Regions from separate parts of the Homo sapiens genome. Here all the other regions are reported to be linked to region 1. Evidence: microRNA targets listed by miRTarBase, many of them from high-throughput screens and not tested one by one. Region 1 holds a microRNA gene; each other region holds the end of a gene's coding sequence.
What was found. Region 1 holds the annotated microRNA hsa-miR-326 (CCUCUGGGCCCUUCCUCCAG, at 1,647-1,666, shown strand). A microRNA usually pairs through its seed, bases 2 to 8, with sites in the 3' UTR of a target mRNA and lowers its output. Matches are read on the target gene's strand: a 7mer-m8 pairs with bases 2 to 8, a 7mer-A1 pairs with bases 2 to 7 and ends in A, and an 8mer does both.

Region 1 (3,230 bases):
GTGGTTTCTCATTGAGTGGCAGCCACTCTCCGACTGGAAGTTTCTTGAGGGCAGTGACTATGTTTGGTAGATAAATGTGTCCTTGGCACCCAGCCCAGGGACCAGGCATGCAGTACATGAGGGTCGTCAGCCATCCCAATTTTCCTGGGACAGTCTCAGTCTCGCATCTCAGGAAACCCCTCAGCTCACTCCTGGGCAAATCAGGACTGTGGGTCACCCTACAGTATCTTCTCATAAAGATTCGTAGAGTAGGTATATCCACGAATTAAGCAAGCATTAGTGAAGGACAGGAGTAGGACTTGAACAGGCCAGGGCAAGCACTGGGTGGCTGCCTTGGGCGCTGAGAGGAGTCAGCAGAAGGGTCTGGAAGGCCTAGCATGTGGACAGTGGGAGGTAGGGGTGGGGCCATCTGCAGCTTGGCAGGGTGTGGGGAGGACATCAGGCCCTGAGTCTGTAAGGTGACTGCTTTCAAACAGGTTTCAGGCTCCCAAGGGCCATGTGCTCTTCCTCAGACACATCCAGAGAGGGCACGGTTGATTCTCACTTTTTTGATTTCTATTAAATATATTGAGCCCTCAGCTACTCTTCCGCCTTGGTAGCTGGAGGCCTCTTCTTCCTCAACCTACTGAGTCTCAGCGTGCCTGCCCACTGCCTTCTGAGCTGTCCATGCCAGACTGAGATGAGACAGGGCAGAGGCACGGGCTGCGAGATGGGAGAGCAGGGCTGCAGGCTCATTCTCAGGCCCAGCCCCAGACACTGAGTGAGCCTTGGTTTCTCACAGGGTATCTGTGAGTTGTCACGTGTGGAAAGCCCCTTGGCATCTTTAGTATGCAATAGGTGCACAGCAAGTCTCATGTTTTGTCCCCGTCTATAAAAGGGGGACAATAAAGCTTGCCCTGCTCACCTCCAGGACTGTCGTGTGGGCCAAACGGGATGTGGATGTGGGATGTGGGAACATTTGGTAAACTGTATCATACCCTACAAATGTTTGAGGATGGGGTTCTTAATAGGGCAGCCCTTGCCAGCCCAGGATTCCAGGCCCAGGATTCCAGCCCAGGCATGGAAGGCTCCTCTTGGGGTTGTGCCCCAGGATCACAAAGAAATCTGGCAGTGCTGCCCTTGTGAGCAGCAGACCTCCGCAGGCAGGTCCGAGACTCAGCTGAGCTCTGCTTCTTTTTTTTTTGAGACAGGGACAGGGCCTGGCTCTGTTGCCCAGCCTGGAGTGCAGTAGTGTGATCATAGCTCACTATAGCCTTGACTTCCTGGGCTCACACAATCTTTCCTCCTCAGCCTCCTGAGTAGCTGGGACCACAGGTGTTCGCCACCATCCCAGGCTAATTTTTAAATTTTTTGTACAGATGTGGTTTTGCTACATTGCCCAGGCTGGTCTTGAACTCCTGGGCTCGAGCAATCCTCCCGTCTCAGCCTCCCAAAGTGCTGGGATTACAGGTGTGAGCTACCACGTCCGGCCAAGATCTGCTTCTTCTGAAACCATGGCAAGAGAAAGACAGACAGACTTGGACCTACTGCAGGGAGGGTTAAGTAGCAGCGGGACTCCCATCAAGAAGAAGGAATGTCTTCCGGAGCCTCATCTGTCTGTTGGGCTGGAGGCAGGGCCTTTGTGAAGGCGGGTGGTGCTCAGATCGCCTCTGGGCCCTTCCTCCAGCCCCGAGGCGGATTCACCATGAGGCTGATGCAGCTTCAGCTTCCAGCCCTTCACGCTCCAGGGCCCTTTCCAAGGCCTAGCAATGTGTCCATGTGCTCAGGGGTTTTGTGAAATTTGCAAAAGGAAATTATTTTTGTACTCTTTTTTTTTTAAAACAAACAAACAAACAAAAAAAAAACCTTCCAAGCTCTGTAAGCTTTAGGCGCCCAAGCCCAGCTCTGCCCTGCTGTGGCAAGTTTTCGTTTGGGCTAGGATGTTGGTGCCACATCTGCTGCATGTCCTCAGGGGGCTCTCATCCCACAGCAGAGATCTGTCATAGGTTAGAGCCCTCCCTACAGAAGCAACACCTGAAAGGCATCCAGGGGAGCCAGTTCTGGGGCAGGCTGAACCTGCAGCTTCACTTGCCATGTAAATTAGAGACTGGAAAGGCTTCTCTGACTTCAATCTTCCTCTTCTGCAAAATGGAGATAAGACCTTCCTGGAAAGGTTAAAATAATGAACCATAGGTGAAACTGCCTGGTCTAGCCCCAGGCTTGTCCTGGGAGCTCAGGAAATGCTGATGAAAGCTGGATGGAGATGGCTCAGGGGAGCCCATGCCTTTCATTGGGATAGTCTGTCCTGCTGTCTGTCAAATTAACCTGCTGTGTGCCAGGCCTGGTATTAGGCTCTGGGATACAAGCTGCTGGGGTGAGGTGGTCAGACGAATCAAGAGGGTGAAAGTGGTTATAAACTGTGGAGCACGGCTTGCCTGGGAAGGGGCTGTTGTAACCGGGATGGGGCCTTTTTTTTTTTTTTTTTTTTGTTTGAGACGGAGTCTTGCCCTGTCACCCAGGCTGGAGTGCAGTGGTGCTATCTCAGCCCGGGTTCAAGCAACTCTCCTGCCTTGAGTAGCTGGGATAATAGGCACATGCCACCACGCCCAGCTAATTTTTGTATTTTTAGTATAGATGAGGTTTCACCATGTTGGTCAGGCTGGTCTTGAACTTCTGACCTTGTGGTCTGCCCACCTGGGCCTCCCAAAGTGCTGGGATTACAAGCGTGAGCCACCGCGCCCGGCCTGGGATGGGACCTTCTGTGGGAGTGGGGCAGAGTAGAAGTCTGGACAGGCCTTTCCTGCTCCTGGGACTGGGTCAGGAGTCTGGCTGGTCTGGTGCCTGAGGGGAGCTGCCAGGGCAGGCCGAGCTGACCTTTCCTGCTCAGAAAGGAAGCCAGGCTGGCAGGGTGCGGTGCATCCCTCTGCAGAGTCAGGGAAGCGGAGTTTGTTGGCAGCAATGTCTTGCCTTCTGTGCTTCCCTAAGACAGGTGGCTGTGGGGAGGGCTTCGAAGAACAAACATGATGTCCGGCTAGGTTTCAGATCCCACCCCTACTGCTTGTTATGCCTGTGACCTAGAGACGGTTACATAATCTTTCTGAACCTTGGTTTTGTCATCTTTAAAATGGGGGTAATAAAATCCTCTCCTCACCCCCATAGGGTTGTGGTAAGGCTTAAATGAGATAATGCATGGCTTAACACAGTGCCTGGTACACAGTAGGTGCTCAATACATGCTGATTGTCCCTCTCCT
Region 2 (3,000 bases), not on the chromosome of region 1:
TTTGTCTGTCTGTGTGTGTGTGTGTGTGTGTGTGTGTGTGTGTGTGTGTGTCAGAGAGAGAGAGAGAGAGAGAGAGATGGAGTGCGGAGGCTTGGGTGAGAGCACAAGCTGGAGAAGTCTTGAGTCAGAGAGCTTACAATGGTATAAGACATCTCTTGGGAGCCCTCAGTGACTCCATGGAGACCATTTCTTTCTCTCTCTCTCGCTGTCTCTCTCTAACACACACACACACACACACGACCTCATGGGGGAGGACCAAGGAAGTACGGGGAAGGGGGAGGAAACAAAAGGCTGAAAGACCAAAAATCAGAGGTTGGGGAAGAGGCTAGCAGAGGCCACCTCCTTGTCAACCCTGTTTTTCTCCCTCTTATTGTTCCCTACAGATTGCGAGAGAGCTGCATCAGTTCACTTTTGACCTGCTAATCAAGTCACACATGGTGAGCGTGGACTTTCCGGAAATGATGGCAGAGATCATCTCTGTGCAAGTGCCCAAGATCCTTTCTGGGAAAGTCAAGCCCATCTATTTCCACACCCAGTGAAGCATTGGAAACCCTATTTCCCCACCCCAGCTCATGCCCCCTTTCAGATGTCTTCTGCCTGTTATAACTCTGCACTACTCCTCTGCAGTGCCTTGGGGAATTTCCTCTATTGATGTACAGTCTGTCATGAACATGTTCCTGAATTCTATTTGCTGGGCTTTTTTTTTCTCTTTCTCTCCTTTCTTTTTCTTCTTCCCTCCCTATCTAACCCTCCCATGGCACCTTCAGACTTTGCTTCCCATTGTGGCTCCTATCTGTGTTTTGAATGGTGTTGTATGCCTTTAAATCTGTGATGATCCTCATATGGCCCAGTGTCAAGTTGTGCTTGTTTACAGCACTACTCTGTGCCAGCCACACAAACGTTTACTTATCTTATGCCACGGGAAGTTTAGAGAGCTAAGATTATCTGGGGAAATCAAAACAAAAACAAGCAAACAAAAAAAAAAAGCAAAAACAAAACAAAAAATAAGCCAAAAAACCTTGCTAGTGTTTTTTCCTCAAAAATAAATAAATAAATAAATAAATACGTACATACATACACACATACATACAAACATATAGAAATCCCCAAAGAGGCCAATAGTGACGAGAAGGTGAAAATTGCAGGCCCATGGGGAGTTACTGATTTTTTCATCTCCTCCCTCCACGGGAGACTTTATTTTCTGCCAATGGCTATTGCCATTAGAGGGCAGAGTGACCCCAGAGCTGAGTTGGGCAGGGGGGTGGACAGAGAGGAGAGGACAAGGAGGGCAATGGAGCATCAGTACCTGCCCACAGCCTTGGTCCCTGGGGGCTAGACTGCTCAACTGTGGAGCAATTCATTATACTGAAAATGTGCTTGTTGTTGAAAATTTGTCTGCATGTTAATGCCTCACCCCCAAACCCTTTTCTCTCTCACTCTCTGCCTCCAACTTCAGATTGACTTTCAATAGTTTTTCTAAGACCTTTGAACTGAATGTTCTCTTCAGCCAAAACTTGGCGACTTCCACAGAAAAGTCTGACCACTGAGAAGAAGGAGAGCAGAGATTTAACCCTTTGTAAGGCCCCATTTGGATCCAGGTCTGCTTTCTCATGTGTGAGTCAGGGAGGAGCTGGAGCCAGAGGAGAAGAAAATGATAGCTTGGCTGTTCTCCTGCTTAGGACACTGACTGAATAGTTAAACTCTCACTGCCACTACCTTTTCCCCACCTTTAAAAGACCTGAATGAAGTTTTCTGCCAAACTCCGTGAAGCCACAAGCACCTTATGTCCTCCCTTCAGTGTTTTGTGGGCCTGAATTTCATCACACTGCATTTCAGCCATGGTCATCAAGCCTGTTTGCTTCTTTTGGGCATGTTCACAGATTCTCTGTTAAGAGCCCCCACCACCAAGAAGGTTAGCAGGCCAACAGCTCTGACATCTATCTGTAGATGCCAGTAGTCACAAAGATTTCTTACCAACTCTCAGATCGCTGGAGCCCTTAGACAAACTGGAAAGAAGGCATCAAAGGGATCAGGCAAGCTGGGCGTCTTGCCCTTGTCCCCCAGAGATGATACCCTCCCAGCAAGTGGAGAAGTTCTCACTTCCTTCTTTAGAGCAGCTAAAGGGGCTACCCAGATCAGGGTTGAAGAGAAAACTCAATTACCAGGGTGGGAAGAATGAAGGCACTAGAACCAGAAACCCTGCAAATGCTCTTCTTGTCACCCAGCATATCCACCTGCAGAAGTCATGAGAAGAGAGAAGGAACAAAGAGGAGACTCTGACTACTGAATTAAAATCTTCAGCGGCAAAGCCTAAAGCCAGATGGACACCATCTGGTGAGTTTACTCATCATCCTCCTCTGCTGCTGATTCTGGGCTCTGACATTGCCCATACTCACTCAGATTCCCCACCTTTGTTGCTGCCTCTTAGTCAGAGGGAGGCCAAACCATTGAGACTTTCTACAGAACCATGGCTTCTTTCGGAAAGGTCTGGTTGGTGTGGCTCCAATACTTTGCCACCCATGAACTCAGGGTGTGCCCTGGGACACTGGTTTTATATAGTCTTTTGGCACACCTGTGTTCTGTTGACTTCGTTCTTCAAGCCCAAGTGCAAGGGAAAATGTCCACCTACTTTCTCATCTTGGCCTCTGCCTCCTTACTTAGCTCTTAATCTCATCTGTTGAACTCAAGAAATCAAGGGCCAGTCATCAAGCTGCCCATTTTAATTGATTCACTCTGTTTGTTGAGAGGATAGTTTCTGAGTGACATGATATGATCCACAAGGGTTTCCTTCCCTGATTTCTGCATTGATATTAATAGCCAAACGAACTTCAAAACAGCTTTAAATAACAAGGGAGAGGGGAACCTAAGATGAGTAATATGCCAATCCAAGACTGCTGGAGAAAACTAAAGCTGACAGGTTCCCTTTTTGGGGTGGGATAGACATGTTCTGGTTTTCTTTATTATTACACAATCTGGCTCATGTACAGGATCACTTTTAGC
Region 3 (3,202 bases), not on the chromosome of region 1:
TGGCTGGCTCTGAGACTCCTCTTCCCCTCAGAACACAGGCCTCCTAAACCAGAAGAAGAAGCTGGAGGCGGACTTGGCCCAGCTGAGCGGGGAGGTGGAGGAGGCTGCACAGGAGAGGCGGGAGGCTGAGGAGAAGGCCAAAAAGGCCATCACTGATGTGAGGCTGGGCAAGGGCTGTGGGGAGCCTGGGACAGAATTGCAGAGGGACTTCCCTGAGGCTGGGCACCTGACCAGCTCCTCCTCCCCAACAGGCGGCCATGATGGCCGAGGAGCTGAAGAAGGAGCAGGACACAAGTGCACACCTGGAACGGATGAAGAAGACGCTGGAGCAGACGGTGCGCGAGCTCCAGGCCCGCCTTGAGGAGGCAGAACAGGCCGCCCTCCGTGGCGGGAAGAAGCAGGTGCAGAAGCTGGAGGCCAAGGTGTGTGCAGCCCCTCTAGTCCTTGGCGCAGGCAGGGTGGGTGACCCAGGGGTGGGCTTGGCATCAGGCTGTCCCCCTGCCTGCAGGTACGGGAGCTGGAGGCTGAGCTTGATGCAGAGCAGAAGAAGCACGCCGAGGCCCTTAAGGGCGTGCGCAAGCATGAGCGCCGTGTCAAGGAGCTCGCATACCAGGTGGGCGACAGGGTCTCCCTGGGGAGTGGCCCTGGAGCTGGCCCAGCCCAAGCAAGCCCTGAGTCCCCCTTGCCCGCCCAGGCCGAGGAGGACAGGAAGAACCTGGCTCGCATGCAGGACCTGGTGGACAAGCTGCAGAGCAAGGTCAAGAGCTACAAGCGCCAGTTTGAGGAGGCGGTGAGTGCGCTGGGGCCTGGACACCTGGACCGGGCACCCCAGCTCTGCCCCAGGGTCTGTGGCCAGGTGAGGCATCAGCAGCAGCTCCACCCTCCAAGGTCAGTGACCCAGAGGGAAGAGAGAAGCTTCTAACATCTCTGGGGAGATCAGACCTAGCTCCTTCTCATGGAACAGACCCCATGTGCTTTCCCCTGGCCAAGGCTGGGGCTGCCTCTGAGGGGTGGGGCAGGCACAAAAAGGCACATGAAGTTGGTGCGTCCCAACTTCCTTATTCCCGCTGTGGTATTGGTGAGGATGGACAGTGGCAATAGGAACAAAGTTGAGAACCAGGAGGAGCTAGCTCCCTTCTTGGACTGGGGCAGGGACCAGAATAAGCATCTCAGTCACCCAAGCGGAACCAAGGCCCTGTGTGTGCCCCCAGGAGCAGCAGGCCAACACCAACCTGGCCAAGTATCGCAAGGCCCAGCACGAGCTGGATGATGCGGAGGAGCGGGCAGACATGGCGGAAACCCAGGCCAACAAGCTGCGGGCACGGACCCGGGACGCCCTGGGCCCCAAGGTGAGGAGTGGCAGGGGCATTGCTCTCTGTGCAGGGGGACTGTGGGGGCTGACAGGTAGTACTGCTCACTCAGCTATCCCTTTCTCCTCAGCACAAGGAGTGACGGCCTGACCCCCTGGGCTCTAAAGAGGAATGTCTGCTGTTGCACATCTGGCTGAGGCCACCTGCCCCGATCCTGCCATCTCTGCATCGCCCCCTGCTGCCTTCAGCCTTCCCTGGGCCCTGAATAAACACCACAGCCAGTTTCCTTCTCATTCTTTTCTTTGGGGTTCAGGAGGAAAAACACAGTCCTAGGGACAAAAGCCAGGTCCACAGCAGTCATTTTTAAAATAAAGTTATTTAATAGTCTCCATTTAATTGGTTTATTTGCTGTTAATAAATTGGCAACACAAGGAAGGGCCCCATGTCCAGGCTCAGGCAGGAGCGGCTGCCTCAGGCAGAGGCAGGGCAGGCACAGCTGCCCCGTGCCCCAAGGGATGGAGGGAAAGGCCCCTCACTTCTGGGAGAACCCCCTTGGATGAACACAGCGGCCAATGAGCAAACAGAACCAGAGGAGCTACAGGAAAATGAGGCAGAGGGGCAGGCTTGGGGGAAGGCAGCATTCTCTGGTACCCACCACCCCTGCCCAGGGCTCAGAAGCCTTTGCCTGGGTCCAAAGGCCAGGGACAAGGGAGGCTTGGCTCACAGATGGGGGGTGGGGGTCACCCATATCTTCCTCCCCACTCTGGGACTGACTGACAGCCAAGAAACCGGCAGGAGCTCACACAGAGCTAATGCTAAATGTCCTCTTACCTCTGGGTGGCCCTGGGCCCCAGGGTTCTGAAGGAAAGGTGGGCATGGTACCCTGTCCTCATTATGGGGACTGAGGCTCTCCATGACCTAGGGCCCTCAGACCCAGGGGGACCAAGGGCTTCTAGGACTTCCCTCCCACCAAGCCTGTACCCAAAGACCTGGGGCAGGCAGAGAGCAGCAGGGAGGAACGGGAACAGGGCAGGGCGTGTGGCATCGTACCCACGCTCACCCACACTGGCCCAGCAGCCTCCCGAGGCCTGGCCCAAGGTCACTCCTCAGTGAAGTCCCTGTCTATGTCCATGTAGGGCTCCTCAATGTAGCTAACGAGAGCAGAGGGTGACTGCCGGTCCGGGTTCAACAGGATGGACACTGTCTCCTTCCAGTATGAGAAGCTGATGCAGGAGCTCTGGGCAAAGAGGGAGGGGCTGGGGGGCGCCTGGAGGACCCAGGTCAAGCCCAGCACCGGGACACCCCTCTGAGAGGCCCTGGGTCCGCGGCCCACCCATCACCCCCTTGAGGGTGGGGCACTCACGTTCTCTAGGCAGGTGCTGTCCTTGTCCTTGTGCAGGTAGTGCTGCTGCCAGAAGCGCAGCAGGTTGTGGAAGTTGTTGAGCAGGAAGCCGGGGTACTTCTTGCTGTGCTCCATCCGCTGCAGCAGCCGCAGGTACAGGGGCAGCCGCTCTTTCCGTCGGGCCAGCATCAGGATCACCAGGCTGGTGTTGAGGCAGCTGACGTTCTCCTGCAAGGCCACAGGCCCACAGGGTCAGGGGCTGGTGGGAGCCCCAGTGGCCCCTGGTGAACCTGGGTAGCCATCAGGCAGGGAGGAGAGTGGCCCCAGGCCTCGGGCCACCCACAGAGCTCTCCCTGCACAGAGGTGAGATAGGACTGGGGGAAGGGGGCCCCCAGCAGCCCCAGTTTCCTGACTGAGCACCTTCCTCTTCCCCACGCCCACCTCCCACCCCACCTGAGGCAACAACACCTGTCCCTGTCCAGACCTGGGCTCAAGCATCACTCCTTCCGGAAGGTCCGTCCCAGGCAGGGCTGGGTGCGTGTGTTGGGGC
Region 4 (3,230 bases), not on the chromosome of region 1:
CAGGATGGCAGCCCTGCCTCACACCCGCTGCACCCTCCCTTGTGCATTTCAACAGGTGCCACTGTCCCCTACTTTGCAGAGGGCTCCGGGGGGCCAGTGCCCACTACCAGCACCTTGATTCTTCCTCCAGAGTACAGTTCTTGGGGCTACCCCTATGGTGAGTCGACAGCCAGGGCTTGGCAGGGAGGGGACGCCAAGAGCCCCACGCAGACCCTGCTTTCTTCCCGCAGAGGCCCCACCGTCTTATGAGCAGAGCTGCGGCGGCGTGGAACCCAGCCTGACCCCTGAGAGCTGACCCCGTGCTGCCTTCTCCAGGCAGGCCTGGCCTCTGCCCTGGGACTGGGGCGCCCAGGGCCTCGTGCCTTCTCTCTTGGCCTAGCCTGGCCCACTCAGGACCTGCCCAGCCTCTGCCAGCTCCTCTGGCATCCGCCCTCTTCTCCCTGGGGCTGGGGTGGGGGTGGCAGGGAGCTGGGACCTGGAGAGACAACTCCTGTAAATAAAACACTTTATTTGTAGAGCTGGGCCTCACCGGCCTCGCCTTGGGCACCCTCCAGCCTCTGGCAGGGCCTGACCCTGACCCCATCCTGGGCTCTGCTCATGCCAGGGCAGACCCTGCTCCTCAGGTGCCCCCTACTACCCTGGGGGCGCGCTCAGGCTACCATGCCTGGGCGGAGCCGCGGGGCTGGCTCCCTTTAACAGAGGACGGGGGCTGGCGCTGGGCCTTCCAGAGCCGCCTAAGGACACGTCCTTGGAGCCCGGCTCATGAAATGGGGCCTCACGCAACCTTGGTGTTTGGTTAAATTTGTGCCTTGGCTCCTGTTGCGTTTAGGCACCCAGGTTCCCAAGCGGTGTGGTGTGGACCTCCCCTGCTGAGAAACCCGCTGGCGCGTGGAGGGGCTTGCCCAGGTCCCTCCGACAGGAGACCCTGCTCCCTGGGCCTTGGCCCCTGCTAGCACCACTGCCAGGCCTGGCTCTGAGGGACGCTGCTTCTCCCCTGCCCACGTCTCCAAGGCCTGAAAGGCAGGGTTCTGTGGAACAGCATTTCTCAAAGGGGCATCCTGCAGACGTTCCAGCCCCAGGGGAGGCCCCGTGATGCTGGCTGGCCTGCCTGGAGGGTGCTTCCAGAAACAACGGAGATGGTGGTGAAGAAGGCTCTGGGTTCAAATTCCAGTTCTCCTTTAGGGCGAAGGGGTGACTGTGGCTAGGTTTGTCAGTTACCTTATCTATAAAATGCACAGGACCAGGCCGGGCACGGTGGCTCCCTCCTGTAATCCCAGTACTTTGGGAGGCTGAGGCAGGTGGATTGCTTGAGGTCAGGAGTTCCAGATCAGCCTGGGCAACATAGTGAAACTCCATCTGTACAAAAAAAAAAAAAAAAAAAAAATAGCTGGGCATCATGGCACATGCTTGTAATCCCAATTACTCAGGAGGCTGAGGCAGGAGAATCGCTTGAACCCAGGTGGCAGAGGTTACAGTGATCTGAGATTGTGCCACTGTACTCCGGCCTGGGTGACAGAGCAAGACTGCCTCAAAAAATAAAAAAACAAAACCCCACAAAAAACTCGTGGGACTGTAGGGTACAGCCCCCCACCCTCATAGCATGACAGTTTATTTCTTGAACAGTCCAGAGGGGGCAGATCCTGGCCTTGTGGCAGAGTTGTCATTCCTACATAGTGGTTCCCATCCCTGGCTCCCAGATGGCTGTTGACAGCTTTCACCACTGCCCAGCCTAATGGTGGGACTTTTGAGGGACAGACTGGGAAATGGATTGTCACTTTTTGTCTCTGACCTGTCCCCTTCCTGTTGGAAATGTGGTCTTTAGCCAGGCAGTCCTGTACTTGGCTAAAATTTTACTAATTGTGGGACAGGCAGCATGAATATTGGAGAACAGCAGAAAGTGTACCACAGGTGGGGTCATCTGTGAAGCGCCTCCTGGAAGCAGTGCAGTATATGGTTGAAAGGAAGGCCTCCTGGGCTGAATCCCATCACTGCCTCTCACCACTCCCTTGCTTCAGTTCAGTCACTTATAAAATGTGGGTAAGAACAGTGCCTGCCTCTCAGGACTGACCTGAAGTCTGCAGTGTTAGCATGTCACGTGCTGAGAGCAGCATCTTGACATAAGTGCTGAGGGGCACACAAGGGTAGCAGCTGATGGAAAAATGGAGTGAAAAAGCTGCCTGCAGCTGCTTCCCACACCTTCACTTAGGGTGGATGTTTGCTTGGTGAAGGATTTTTCTTCACATTCTAACTCCCTTTATTCAGTCAACAATTTTTTTGTTGTTGTTGTTGAGACAGAGTCTTGCTCTGTTGCCCAGGCTGGAGTGCAGTGGCACAATCTCAGCTCATTGCAAGCTCTGCCTCCCGGGTTCATGCCATTCTCCTGCCTCAGCCTCCCGAGTAGCTGGGACTACAGGCGCCCAGCACCACTCCCGGCTATTTTTTGTATTTTTAGTAGAGATGGGGTTTCACCATGTTAGCCAGGCTGGTCTCCATCTCCTGACCTCATGATCTGCCCACCTCGGCCTCCCAAAGTGCTGGGATTACAGGCGTGAGCCACCGCACCCGGCCCAGTCAACAAATATTTTGTCTCCTGTACACCAGGTATTGTTCTAGGCACCATGGACTTACATTCTAGTAGGGAGACAATATTCCAAATCAGGATGTGGGAGAGTCACATGACACACACTGTGATGGAGCCAAGTAAGTCAACGAAGACAGGTATGGGGGGGCAGTATCATTTTAACTAGGGAGGAGAGGGAAGGCTTCCCTTAAGAGGTGATATTTCAACTCAAGGATGGTAAAGAGGGAAGCCACAAAGACACTCGAAATAAAGGTTTCAGGGAAGGGACAGACAGCAGGGGTGGCGGAGAGGTGGGTGCGGGGCAGGAGGGCCATGAAGGCGCTCGTGTCTCCTGCGAGGGCTCAGGGTGCTCGGCCTGTCATAAATGGACTTAGGCTTTGACAGAGCAGTTTAGCTGCCCTAAAGAAACCTGGGAAGGTTCCCTTGGCACTTGGGATTGTCCGTTTCCTTTTCTGTCTATGTGCGCTGTCTATGCTGGACTTGAGATAATTCTCCGGAGTCCGACTCACCAGGAGACTCGGGTGTCACCCAGATTGACCTTCAAGGCTCATTTCTTGTCAGTCCAGTACCCGTCCCCTCGGTTCACACGACCATCCAGAAACCTCAAATTCAGTCCATGCTTCTTGTTTTGGGTCTCGGGGCTGGGATA

Region 2: the mRNA of AR is a reported target of hsa-miR-326. Seed matches in the 3' UTR shown: 7mer-m8 at 1,238-1,244 and 8mer at 2,060-2,067.
Region 3: miRTarBase lists TRPC4AP as a target of hsa-miR-326. Seed matches in the 3' UTR shown: 7mer-m8 at 2,142-2,148, 7mer-m8 at 2,072-2,078 and 7mer-A1 at 1,952-1,958.
Region 4: miRTarBase lists ARRDC1 as a target of hsa-miR-326. The part of its 3' UTR that is shown has no 7-base or 8-base seed match.

What each region holds. Positions count from the first base shown.
Region 1 is chr11:75,333,544-75,336,773 of GRCh38, reverse strand. MIR326 (microRNA 326) reads left to right here and starts at 1,588; the gene lies at 1,588-1,682. The region is part of intron 1 of ARRB1 (arrestin beta 1); the gene reads left to right. RefSeq lists enhancers at 1,016-1,549, 1,550-2,084, 3,153-3,230.
Region 2 is chrX:67,723,303-67,726,302 of GRCh38, forward strand. AR (androgen receptor) reads left to right here. Exons shown (of 8, transcript NM_000044.6): 8 at 384-3,000. The coding sequence ends at 539. Among named protein-coding and RNA genes, the nearest start is that of NXTAR, 60 kb to the right of the region's middle.
Region 3 is chr20:35,000,737-35,003,938 of GRCh38, forward strand. It overlaps TRPC4AP (transient receptor potential cation channel subfamily C member 4 associated protein), which reads right to left. Exons shown (of 19, transcript NM_015638.3): 18 at 2,674-2,880; 19 at 1,668-2,547. The coding sequence ends at 2,410. It overlaps MYH7B (myosin heavy chain 7B), which reads left to right. Exons shown (of 45, transcript NM_020884.7): 40 at 32-157; 41 at 252-422; 42 at 509-613; 43 at 695-790; 44 at 1,212-1,349; 45 at 1,441-1,701. The coding sequence ends at 1,452. Among named protein-coding and RNA genes, the nearest start is that of MIR499B, 12 kb to the left of the region's middle.
Region 4 is chr9:137,614,844-137,618,073 of GRCh38, forward strand. It overlaps ARRDC1 (arrestin domain containing 1), which reads left to right. Exons shown (of 8, transcript NM_152285.4): 7 at 1-157; 8 at 231-517. The coding sequence ends at 295. ARRDC1-AS1 (ARRDC1 antisense RNA 1) reads right to left here. Exons shown (of 3, transcript NR_122035.1): 2 at 3,091-3,230; 3 at 489-1,356. Among named protein-coding and RNA genes, the nearest start is that of ARRDC1-AS1, 2.4 kb to the right of the region's middle.